2 linked regions of the Homo sapiens genome follow. The protein of the gene in region 1 interacts with the protein of each later gene in a biochemical or structural test. Each region holds a gene or a part of one and is shown on either strand. Other genes may lie near its edges.

What was found.
Region 2: the proteins of PIP (region 1) and CD4 form a complex in vitro, tested with the Homo sapiens proteins (one study listed by BioGRID).

Annotation. Positions count from the first base shown.
Region 1 is NC_000007.14:143,135,051-143,140,501, reverse strand, and holds the end of PIP (prolactin-inducible protein precursor), read right to left. Parts: intron 5,309-5,451; coding exon 5,203-5,308; intron 1,428-5,202; coding exon 1,313-1,427; intron 985-1,312; coding exon 860-984; 3' UTR 763-859; downstream 1-762.
Region 2 is NC_000012.12:6,785,359-6,792,552, reverse strand, and holds the start of CD4 (T-cell surface glycoprotein CD4 isoform 1 precursor), read right to left. Parts: upstream 3,026-7,194; 5' UTR 2,891-3,025; intron 1-2,890. UniProt on the Homo sapiens protein: Integral membrane glycoprotein that plays an essential role in the immune response and serves multiple functions in responses against both external and internal offenses.

The sequences.
Region 1 (5,451 bases):
GGGGATATGGTCCCACTTTCTTGCCCAGATTCACTCGGCCTCTCCTGATTTTGCTCCTGTCCTCTTGCCAGATCTGCTTCTAACTCTTCCATGTATACTTAATCCTGCCCAATATGAAAGTGTTTACCTGCCCTGAGCAAGCCACTATTTCATGCTTTGGGCTCTTGGTGCCTGCGTCCTATCTACTAGAATGCCCTCTGCCCACTTCGTGCACCTGATCCTTGCTCATATTCCACTTCTATGGGCTGGCCCTCTGGGATGAAGCCCCTCAGGGCTCCCTCTGCCCCTTTACTCCTCTATTATGCCTGAGCTCCTCAGGCAGAGCTGCACAGGACCCTGATATCCCTGAGTGTCACAATCCATTGAAAACAAGCAACAGAATAGCATAGAATGCTACTGCTCATTTAGGGGGCCATGGACTCCATCCCTGACTCTGCTGCATGCAACAGGACTCCTGTCTTCTGGGATCTGAGCTGTTGCTGGAGGGCAGTGGGATGGAGAGAGGTCAAGCAACAGGGAGGCTTGGTGCCTGCCCTGGCTCTGCCACTCCTGTGCCGTGAACTTTAGGGCCACTGCTTTTCCTCTCTGTGAGCATAGCTCCTCTTCCCAGTTTCTTCTTCTCTCCCTCTTCATACCAATGGGCAGTGAGAACCCGTACAATCTCCTCAGTAAAGGTTCTTTGAAAGACAAATGTTCTAGAAATTTCAGGTAATCTGGGGTTCTTCAGGAGCAGATTTTGGAGATACAACAGAACATGGAGAAGCATGTTAAGAAGTTTATTTTATAGACCACAGCAGAAATTCCAGCCAAGTTTCTTTAGAGGAAATCACCTGGGTGTGGCAAACAGACAGGGCTTCCATTATTCTACCTTTAGGATTTCAATAGTATAAAACCGGTTGTTTTTGATGGGGATTACAGCAGCATCATCAGGGCAGATGCCTAATTCCCGAATAACATCAACGACGGCTGCAATTTGCACAGTTCCTGAAAAAGACAGGGACGGAGATCATCTCTCAGACACCCCGGCCATGTCCTGTCTTTTCTACTCATATCAGGCATCTGCCCCCTGGGGTTCAGTTTCCCCAAATCCTTTGCAAATTTGTCTCCTGTATCAACTTTTTGCACTCAATGCCTCTGTCTTAGAACCTGGGTGCTTTCCCCATCTGCTCTCCCCATGCTCTTCCCTCCCTCCCTTCTGTCCTTCTGCCCTGAGGTCCTGGTCCTGCTCGGTTCGCAGCCATGTTTCTGTTTATAGTTTCTCCTCCCTGGTGGCTGGTGGGTAGTTCCCTCCTTGGACAACTTCTGTACTTACTGTTGGTGTAAAAGTCCCAGTAGAAGGTTTTTGGATTGTCGTCACATAGGCAGGCAGTATACTTATAGTTAAATGCACCTTGTAGAGGGATGCTGCTAATGAGGTAAGTTTTAACCTGGTGAGGAGAAGGTGGGAGGGGGAATTCATTGTTATTTTGGGGAATGGGTAAGGGAGGGAAAAATAGGAGAGGGAAAAGCCGGAGGAGAAGAGTGGGGGTGGAGGTGGGCCTAGGGCAAGGGGGAGTCTACTGTTGTAGTATCATTTCAGGAGCCAAAGTCTAGGTCAGAAGGTTTTCCCTTCCAATGCCCTCAAACTCCTGCCTTAGCAGTGTGGAGAAGCTCAGGAGGAGATAGGGATGCAAGTGAATCCACAGGGCAAGGAGAGCTCATCCAGGGCAGCTGTCCAGCTGAGGAGCAGGCTTGCCTTAGTCACCAGCCAGAGGTTTCAGGAATCGACCTGCAATCACGTTTACTCTGAGACCTGGTGAGACAGCAGCCTGGCCACTTGCGTGTAGGAGCCAATGTCAGGCCTTGTTGTCAGAGCTGTGACCAAGCCCCATCTGTGCTCCTCTCTGACTTGGTGACCTTTGGTGATGAGAGGCCTCTCACTCTCACTTTCCTCAGGTATGAGGTGGAAACAATTAACTACCAAACCTGGCTGTTAGATAAGCAAATAACATCTTGAATGTAAATTTCTTTTTAACTTGAGTGCTTTGCAATTCAAGATCCCAGATTATTGTATATATAAATTTCAGTGGAGTCAGAGGATTTTGTCCAGTTAACGTTTAACACAGCAGTTTTATCCTGGGGTCCATAGACCCAGAGGGATCTGTGGATAGCATTCAGTGAGTCTGTGGACTCAGGCAGGGGAAAAATATGCATCTTTATTACTAACCTCTAATTGAAATTCAGCATTCCTTCTGTTATGAATGTCATCAAGGAACCACAGTGCCATTAGCAGTATGTGTGATTTTATCACAAGGAGAAAAGTAGATATGTACATATCATTGCACGGATCCAGAGGTCCGAAATACAGCCTGAATGTACTACCTTGAATGTATGGCAGTTATCAGACTGGCTCATGGTCACGACTGAGGCCCAGTGCCATTCTGCCCACCTCCTGCAGCTTGCTCAGCTACCTGGCAACTCAGCATCAAGTAGCCGTTCAGACCTAAACAGTAAATTCAGGTGTTCTCACCCTTGGAGTTTTACTCAGAATGCCTTGGAGAATCCTGGCGTTTCTTTGGAGAAGACTACCTGTGCCTTGTTTCCCTTTTTTTTTTTTTTCTAAGAGACAGAGTCTCACTCTGTTGCCCAGGCTGGAGTGCAATGGTGCGAACGTGGCTCACTGCAACCTCCGCCTCCCAGGTTCAAGTGATTCTTCTGCCTCAGCCTCCTGAGTAGCTGGGATTACAGGTGCGTGCTACCAGCCCTGGCTAATTTTTGTATTTTTAGTAGAGACAGGGTTTCACCATGTTGGCCAAGCTGGTCTCGAACTCCTGACCTCAGGTGATCTGCCCACTTTGGCCTCCCAAAGTGCTGGGATTACAGGCACAAGCCACTGTGCCCGGCCTTGTTTACCTTTCTGTTACATTAGCAACAACATATCGTCATGAATCAGAATTTACACCACTTGTACAATAAAAGATCAGAATCCGTTGCATGCCTAGCATGGCACGTGGGACGTGTTGCCAAAGACCAGTGCAGTTTAATGTACTTCTTCAAGCTAAGTAACAACATCCATCACACAGATAATGTGTTCATAGAATAAAATTCAACTCTTCTATATTTTAAATGTATTGCTTTCCCAGCTAATGTGTGCATAAAGAAACACATACCTTACTGCATCACAAATTTATTTTTTACAAGTTAGTCACTGTTACTCAATGTGGTAGTTTCTCTCTGTAATCCAATGCACTTTATACATTTAGAAGCAATTTTCTGATAAATGTTTCATAAACTTCATGAAACCAACGAAATGGCCTGTAGCACAAAAATGTTTAAGCATTGTTTTTGCCACAAGTTTCCTTCAGCTTTAAAGGATTATGCAATCTTTATATTCAAATATACGATTGTAGGTATATTCTATTCTAATTCTAAAATAAATAAATATGAGTCTAAACCTCACTTTTTCAAAAATTCAGTTACAGAAAACATTATAAATGATAAAAAATGAGGATTAGATGGTAAGAATTTTATAGTTATATAAATATATTTTAATAAAAATTTAAAAATAGTTATACTTTGAAAAATGAAGCCACAAATAAAAATTTGTTGACTAGAATTAACAAAATTTCCTTTCCTGTAAATTATTTCTAGTTTGCAAAGTCAGTTAGTCTAAAGATTTCTTATTCTTTTAGTTGTGCTTAGGTGGGTTTTGAAAAGATTGCTTTATTTTAGAGTACTAGCATGATTCTTAAAAGCATACTTTTATTAATCACAAAAGCACAAAATTATGTCACATGTAATTTTATTGATTCAAACATATCTTATTATACCTACCACTACCATTAACTATTACCACCAGAAACCACCATTTTCACAAAAATTTTATGTACACATTATGTACATGTTCTTATTCTCATTCTCACCTGTGTTTGTGATAAACAAAATACAGAGTTGAAAAATTATGATTCAGCCTTGCTCCTACCCCAAATTAGTGTACATGTCTCAGATTCTTGGACTGAAAATAGAAAAATTTGACAAAGCAGCTGTGATATTCTTTGCTCATTGACCAGGAATTTTTCTTTACAGGTGTGGGGATATTTCTAGAATGCAGTTGACTGAATAGCAATCTTCATGTTCTCAATGTTGTTTTACATGTAATCATTGTCCTTAAGTCTCATTTGAATTAGGAAACTTATGTTGTAAGGAAATACTTGTGCTGCCTGATAGAAGGTGTCCTTCATGAAGGGTCTGGGGAGGGAGTAGGGGAGATGGGAGATGCATGGGTCTTGGCCCTAGAACAAAGGTAGTGGGGGCAGTTTGCATGCTTGTGACATCTGAGATCAATGACTAGGAAAAGGACACACAACCAGTGTCCCAGGGAAGAGTCACTGTGGATTAATAACTGCATAAGTCTATTTGACTTCTGGCCCTTGGCAGCTAGACAGGAGGGATAATGCTCTAATCCCAAGCTGCTCAAAAATGTGATCCTTTGGGCACAGCCTTGGTGTACCTTGGGCGTCTGTTAAAATCCAGAAGTTCTAATCTCTCCCCAGACCTGCTGAATGAAACTCTGAATTTTAACAAGATCCCCGAGTGAGTTTTAGACACATTACCATTTGAAAACCTCTGACCTTGTTCAGAGATTGGACTTCTGAACGTGGGGAAAAGGAGGAGATGATTACGAGCTCCTTGTCAGGGTGGGGAGGCTGGAACAAGAGTCCACTTCTGGTGACCCAGAGCAAAGGAGCAGAAGAAGGCAAGAGGACAGTAGAGTCGCTCAGTGCTTACTGGAGAGGAGGAGTCATATCCTGCATGTCCTCTTCTGCCCACCCACCTCAACCTATGGTGTGGAGTTGCTGCTTTCTCTTCTGAGAACTCCCCTCCCTCCATCCTAAACTAAACATGCTCAGGACCTTGGAAGGACTCTAACTGCTTCTCTACTAGCTCTTACACTTTTTTCTTTTTCCCTCTTTCTCACTTCCTATTCCTTCTTCCTTTCCTTCTTATTTATCCTAGACTTCTCTGGATTCGAACTTCTTCATCTGGAAAATGAGAAGTCATCTGTCCCAAGCTCCCACAGTTGTTCTGAGTCTCAAGTAGCATAACATAAGTGAGAATGTTTCATTAAGTACACTGTACATTATTAAAGTGAGAGATTAAATTATGTTTATAATCAAGGAGTTGAATTATCTTTTGAAGTCACGCCCCCAGTCCTCTACTTACCACCATGCATTCTTTCAATTCTGTTTGAACTGCAAGCACTGCAGTGACTTCGTCATTTGGACGTACTGACTTGGGAATGTCAAAATTCTTTATTATGATCTTCCGACTGATTGTGGGAAGAGAGAATCAGAACACCAGGATCAGAGACCAATCTTTGAGTGAGGGGGGAGCCATGAACAGGGCAAGGGGCACAGGATGGGCAAGGGAGGGAAATTATGGGGCTTGGATCAATTGTTCAGCATTGGAATC
Region 2 (7,194 bases), on another chromosome or scaffold:
GAGGAGGGGAGGGAAAGATGTGGGAGAGAGAGACCTGGAGCAGCTTGTTAAAGCAACAGCTATGCACACACAATCCACAATCACACACAAAGCGCAGGGTAGTACAAAAAAAGAGGAAAAGAAGAAATTCTGAGAAGCAAGACAGATGCACAGAGCATAGATCCAAAGTGAGGCAAAGAGAGACTGAGAAAGAGAAGAGACCAAAATGGCAACACACACCACGCACTTTCTCAGAGCCTTGAGGTTCCTGCCGCCCTCACCCCTGGCCCCCAGGGATGGGATGAGGGGCGAGGCTTGGGAGGGTAAGAGGGCCCAGCTCCACCACAGCGAGAGTCTGTGGTCCCACAGGCACTTTTATCTTCTCCCCATAACCCCCAAGCAGCCCACTCAAGCCCAGCCGCGGGATGTGCCCCACCGCGTTCACCCTCTCTACTGCTGACTAGCTTCCTATAAACTTCCTAGAGACTGTGACCCCTCTAAGGAACTCTTGTGGTTGGTGGCTGCAACCTCCGCCATCCTCTTCTTCGCCTCAGACACCCACATCGGGGGAACCGTGCCCACCCTCCTTCCCTCATCCCCTCAAAGGTACAGAACAGAGCTCAAACTCAGAGCCTTGCAAACCCAGACCCCTGCCCACCTACTTCTGATTCCCCACCTTCATCAAAGTTATTTTGAGACAGGGCCTCACTCTCGCCCAGGCTGGAGTGCAGTGGCACAGTCAGGCCTCACTGCAGCCTCCGTCTCCCAGGCTCAAGCAATCCTCCCACCTCAGCTTCCCAAGTAGCTGGAACCACAGGCACACACTACCATGCCCAGCTAACTTTTGTGGGGTTTGTAGAGATGGGGGTTTCACCATGTTGCCCAGGCTGGTCTCAAACTCCCAGGTTCAAGCCATCCTCCTGCCTCGGCCTCTCAAAGGGCTGGGATTACTGGTGTGGGCCACCACGCCCGGCCCATCACAGGTATTTCATTCAACAAACATTTATTGAGTGTCTAAAATGTGCAAGACTGGCCCAGTATGGTGGCTCACGTCTGTAATGCCAGCACTTTGGGAGGCCAAGGCGGGCGGATCATTTGAGGCCAGGAGTTTGAGGCCAGCCTGTCCAACATAGTGAAACCTGGTCTCTACTAAAAATACAAAAAGTAGCCGGGCGTGGTGTTGGGCTCCTGTAATCCCAGCTACTCAAGAGGCTGAGGCAGGAGAATCGCTTGAACCCAGGAGGTGGAGGCTGCAGTGAGTGGAGATCACGTCATTGCACTCCAGCCTGGGCAAGAGAGCGAGACTCCGTCTCAAAAATAATAATAAAAAATAAAACGTGCAAGACAATTGGTCTAGCCAATTGCCCTCAGCACCACCCCGCCATTACGGCCAGGGTCAGAGCCTAGGGCTGCCCCCAAGCTCTGTCTAGCACCAGTGGTGGGAGGAGTTTTTATCTAGATATAGACCTCTCCTATGTAAGTGCTCCCACATTGAAAGAGGGAAATCATCTCCCGAGTGTCTCTAACGCTGTCCTCAGGGGCTCTTTCATCTGACTTTGAGGGCGGCGGCCATTTTGTATCAGCCTACAGCATCTGATACAGCACAAGGAATTATTGGTCAAAATGTGAAGTAGCAGTGACTTCCCCCATCAGGCCCTGCTCTTAGCCTTGCCCCGATAAAAATGTCCACCACAAGAGCAGGGCATTCAGGAAGCACTATCCCACTCAGAGTGAAATCTTTGAATTATTGAGAACAGGGCCTTTCCGTTTTGAGGGATCAGAACGTACCCCAGGAAACCTCTCTCCCAGAAGAAGCCTATGAGGGGAAAGCAGAGGACACTGGGGATAGCACGGCTTCAAGGCCATGAGGTCTCAGGGGCTGGAAAGGTCTGAGGGCGGAAAGGCTGAGATGGCACAGGGCTTCCCTTCAGGAGGGACAGTGAGTCCTCACTCTCCCTCACACCCTGCCAGGCCCAGGAGGGGCTGCACATCCTTCTGTAACTCTCCCGGCCTCATGAGACCCCTACCACCAATTCTTTTCGAATCCGTTTCTTAAATGACATATTTATCTAAAGATATGTATCTGCAACTTTTAGGGCAATTCATACGCAAAAGCTCAGTTTCAACACTTTCTGAGAATTTTAGCTTTCCTATTTCATGAATCATTTTAAAGCTAACTAGAGTAGAAGTGCCTTTAGACATTGTTCAAAAATCTTAAAAGAGCAAAGAAGCAGACAAAAATTTAAAAATACACACAGAAACACAAAAGGTAGTTAAAAGAGACTATTACATAGATCATGCGACTTATGAAATGCTGCAAGTATGATATTTGGTGTCAATTTTTGGAGATTGTCCCGTTAAGGAAAATTGGTTTTGCAAGAATTTTCTCTAGACTAGATTCCACTTCTTTTGCTCTTTTTCTTGTTTTTATGTTTTTCCTCATCATTTCTTTTTTATAGGTTTCCTCCCACCTTATATTTATTTATTCTTTCTAATTTTTTCCCTCCCCTTCTTCACTCTTTTTCTCCTCTTTTCCCCTCTTCCAGTCTTCTCCCCTCAACTGCCCACGACTAGTTGCCTTCCACGCCTTTCCCAGCCTGGGATAGTCTCCAGTCTTCACTCCCTCTCTGATCTTGCTATTTAGGTCACTACTCCTCTAAGGAGCACCCATTGCTCTGGACACTGAGCTGTGCACGCTGGGGCTGCAGAGAGGAGTCTAGCACAGTCTCTGACCTCTGGAAGCTCACAGTTCCAGTGGGAAATCGCTGCTCATGACCAGTTCCAAGAGAAATGCAAGAGAAGGTGGCCAGAGCTGTGGGCAGACAACTGGGCAGAGCACATTCCTGTGCATCTGCCCCACGTTCCCCTCCCTCTCAGCTCCGGGGAAGGAAGCCGAGTCTGACCACCTTACCTCTGGGCTTGCGTCTTTCTTGCCCGCTGCTTCTCAAACAGGCGTATCTGTGTGAGGACTTGGAGCTCTGCAACCAGGAGCCCAGTGGGGAGGGTGCTTTGTTCCTTCTGCAGAGTCGTGCTTAAATGAAGAGAGACAGGAAGCCCGATGGCAAGGCTCCTCCACACCCTAGGCCTGGGCCGGCCCCAAACGTCACCAGCTGGAGCTGGGTTCCCCACCCCCCAGGCTCTCAGGGAACATGTCAAAGTGAAAATGCCAAAGTCAAGGGAAAAAGTTAAGCAGAATCAGGCTTAAATCAGGAGTCAAACTGTCACTGCCACTGTTAAGCGGCAAGAAAAAGATGGCAAGAAAGATTCCATTAGTGGTAGCGCCATGTCTGACCAGGCTGTGGGGAAAGAAGTGGGAGGCAGTTGGGGGCATATGGGAACAGCAGTGGTAAGCCCACAAACAGCTCCTTGCTCTGGGGCCCTGAGGGCATGTGTCCAGTGGGTGCCCCAGGGGTATCTGTGGAGGCTTTATAGGTGGCCCAGTGTGGAAGAGAGGGCGTGGGCTGAGCAGAGAATATCTGAGACACCAGGAGTGACTGTTAACCAGGCTCTGTTCCTCTAGGCGTCTCTGGCCAGGCCTCAGGTGCTTTCCTCTAGCCCGAATCTACCATGAACTCTCTATGTGAGTATCCGTCTGCCCATTGGACATCTCCACTGGGAAGCTCACCGGACATAGCAAACTCAACACACATCCCCAACTATGCATACCACCTGCATACTACCACCCTCCAAACCTGCTTCTCCAGGCTTCTCACTCAGTGAGGGGCTCACCATCCACCAACTTGCCCAAGCAAAATAAATTGGGTGTAATCTTTGACACCCCCTTCACCCAACTTCTCCCACGTATTTATTTACCAGTTCCTGTGGATGTTACCTTCTAAATGGCTCCAAAATCTACCCAAGTCACTCTGCACTACCACTACTGCCACCATGCCAATCCAAGATGCCAATATCATCCCTTGCTCGGACAACAGCTCCTGCCTCCTCACTGGTCGCCATTCTCCATACCACAGCCCAAGTGATCATTTAAAGATGCACATGTGAGTGTGCGTTTTCCAGTCTGAAAAAAGTGGGGCTGGGAGTGGTGGCTCATGCCTATAATCCCAGCATTTTAGGAGGCCGAGGTGGGGGGATCGCTTGAGCCCAGGAAGTTGAGGCTGCAGTGAACCGTGATTGCACCACTGCACTCTAGCCTGAGTGACAGAGTGAGAACCTGTCTTGAAAAGAAGAAAAGAAAAGAAAAGAAAAGAAAACTCTAGTTCAGCTTGCGACTCCAACAATTAACACAAGTACCCCTATTTGACAGCATTGTACTTCATCTGTAGCATATAGTACTGTGTGCTACTTCTCATTTCATGACACACCGTACTCAAGGGTTGAGATTTAATAAAATTAGTATTTACTGCTTCATTAAAGGCATTCTATATATATATATATATATATTTTTTTTTTTTTTTTTTTTTGAGAGGGAGTCTCACTCTGTTGCCCAGGCTAGAGTGCAGTGGCGTGATCTTGGCTCACTGCAACCTCTGCCTCCCGGGTTCAAGCAATTCTCCTGCCTCAGCCTCCCAAGTAGCTGGGGCTACAGGCATGCGCCACAATGCCCAGCTAATTTTTGTATCTTTAGTAGAGATGGGGTTTCACCATGTTGCCCAGGATGGTCTTGATCTCTCTTTTTTTTTTTTTTTTTTTTGAGACAGAGTCTTGCTTTGTCATCCAGGCTGAAGTGCAGCAGCATGATTTCGGCTTACTACAACCTCCGCCTCCTGGATTCAAGCCATTCTCCTGCCTCAGCCTCCCGAGTAGCTGGGATTACAGGCACCCGCCAACATGCCTGGCTAATTTTTGTATTTTTGTAGAGACAGGGTTTCACTCGTTGGCCAGGCTGGTCTTGAACTCCTGACCTCAGGTGATCCTGATCTGCCCGCTTCGGCCTCCCAAAGTGCTGGGATTACAGGCACGAGCCACTGCGCCCGGCCTCATTAAGGGCATTCTTAAGTAAAAGTGGCATTAATTTTTTTTCTTTTTTTACTGTAAGTACCTGGCAGTGAAGAATGCAATGACTATCATATGGTTTGGCACCACTGCCTTCATTTATGCTAAGGCAGCAGTTTTATCCAGATTGTTTTTGCAACATTATTGCAATGTCAACATAGTGACAAAGGAAAATAACATCCTGTATTTTTTTATGAAAATAGCTTGACCTTGAAGATCCCCTGAAAGGGTCTCAGGGACTCCCAAGGGTCTGCAGGCCACACTTCACTCTGAGAACCACTGATCTAGGTAATTTTTATTCATTCTTCAGATCTCAGCTATCGCTTTAGCTGTCCCCAAAGTCTATTTTCTCCTTCTTGGTAATAGAACCCTCAATTTTTAGCTGAGCTCTTAGCTACCCAGATTTAAAATATACTTCCCAGCCTCCCTCACAGCTGGATGTGTCCAAGTGACTCAATTTTGGTTAATAGATAGAAGTGAAAGTATTAGGTGCAACCTCAGAGTTGCTCCTCAAAGTGGGGAAAATGTATCCTCCTCAGGCCTTCTTCCTTCAGACTAGAAAGCAAACACCCTCCCTATTGTTCACAGCCAGTCTGCTTTTCTCATTTACATTACCTGGCAGGCTCTGGTAGGCATTGATGTTTTGAGCCCTGCTCCATTCATTCATGTACGTAGTTAAGCGTGTACCAGCCCAAGGCACTCTGCTAGGTAGCTGGGGATGTGATGTTGAAGAAGACAGATATGGTCACCACTCCAGCTTATGACATAGACACTAAACAACGAACAACTTCATTACAATTCGACAAGCGCTACAAAGGAAAAAGCACAAGGTGCTGGGAGATCTTATCACAAAAGAACCTTCTTTCAACTGGGAGAATTGTCTATCGGTAAGCACTGGGTTCTGCTACAAGCAAAAGAAAACCCAAAATAATAGAGGCTTCAACAAGATTGAAGTTATTTTTCACATGTAGGAAGTGTGGAGGTGGGTGGTGCAGAAGAGAGGGAGCAGCACGCCGTCCTCCAGGGCCAAGATTGGGGCTGTTTATATTTTGTTGCTCTACCATTCTCCTGCACAGGACTTCCTCCCCAGAGTCTCAGAGGATACTCAGGTTCCTCAGTTGAAATCAGTTTTCCTTGTGATAAGATCTCCCAGTCCCCTGTGCTTCTCCCTTCGTAGCAATTTTCCAGTTGCAATGAAGTTATTTGCTGCTTAGTGTCTAGCTCACAGGCCAGAGCGGTGACCGTGTCTGTCTTAGTTAGCACTATGTTCCCAGCACCCTCACAGATGCCTTGGCCCTGGAAGACCCTTAATGCTTGTTTAATATTTTCCTAATATATTAAATTTTATTGATATTAAATTTATTGCGGTAAAATACACGCAACATAAGATTTTCCATTTTAAGCTTTTTTTTTTTTTTTTTCCAAGACGGAGTCTTACTCTGTCCCCCAGGCTGGAGTGCAGTGGCACAATCTAGGTTCACTGCAACCTCCACCTCCTGGGTTCAAGCGATTCTCCAGCCTCAGCCTCCCGAGTAGCTGGGACTACAGGTGCCCGCCACCACGCCTGGCTAATTTTTGTATTTTTAGTAAAGACGGGGTTTCACCATGTTGGCCAGGCTGGTCTCGAATTCCTGACCTCAAGTGATCTGCTCACCTTGGCCTCCCAAAGTGTTGGGATTACAGGTGTGAGTCACCACACCCGGCCATTTTAGGCATTTTTTAATGTACTGCTCTGTGGGACTGAGTACACTCACATGGTTGTGTAACCATCTAGAAATTTTTCATCTTCCCCAAATGAAACTCTGTACCCATTAAATACTGACTCCTCATTCTAACTCCCTGCAACTCCTGGCTATTGAATAATATTTTTTTTTCTTTTTTCTTTTCTTTTTTTTTTGGAAACAGAGTCTTGCTCTGTCGCCGAGGCTCGAGTGCAGTGGTGTGATCTCGGCTCACTGCAACCTCCGCCTCCCAGGTTCAAGCGAATCTCCTGCCTCAGACTCCCGAGTATCTGGGATTACAGGCGTGCGCCACCAAGCCTGGCTAATTTTTGTATTTTTAGTACAGACAGGGTTTCACCATGTTGGCCAGGCTGGTCTCGAACTCCTGACCTCAAGTGATTCTCCTGCCTCTGCCTCCCAAAGTGCTGGGATTATAGGCGTGAGCCACTGCACCAGGCCAAATAATTTTTGAATGGATAAATAGAGAAGTATGGACAAGAGCAGGAGAGCAGGGCTACAAATGTAAATGCTTACAGGAGCC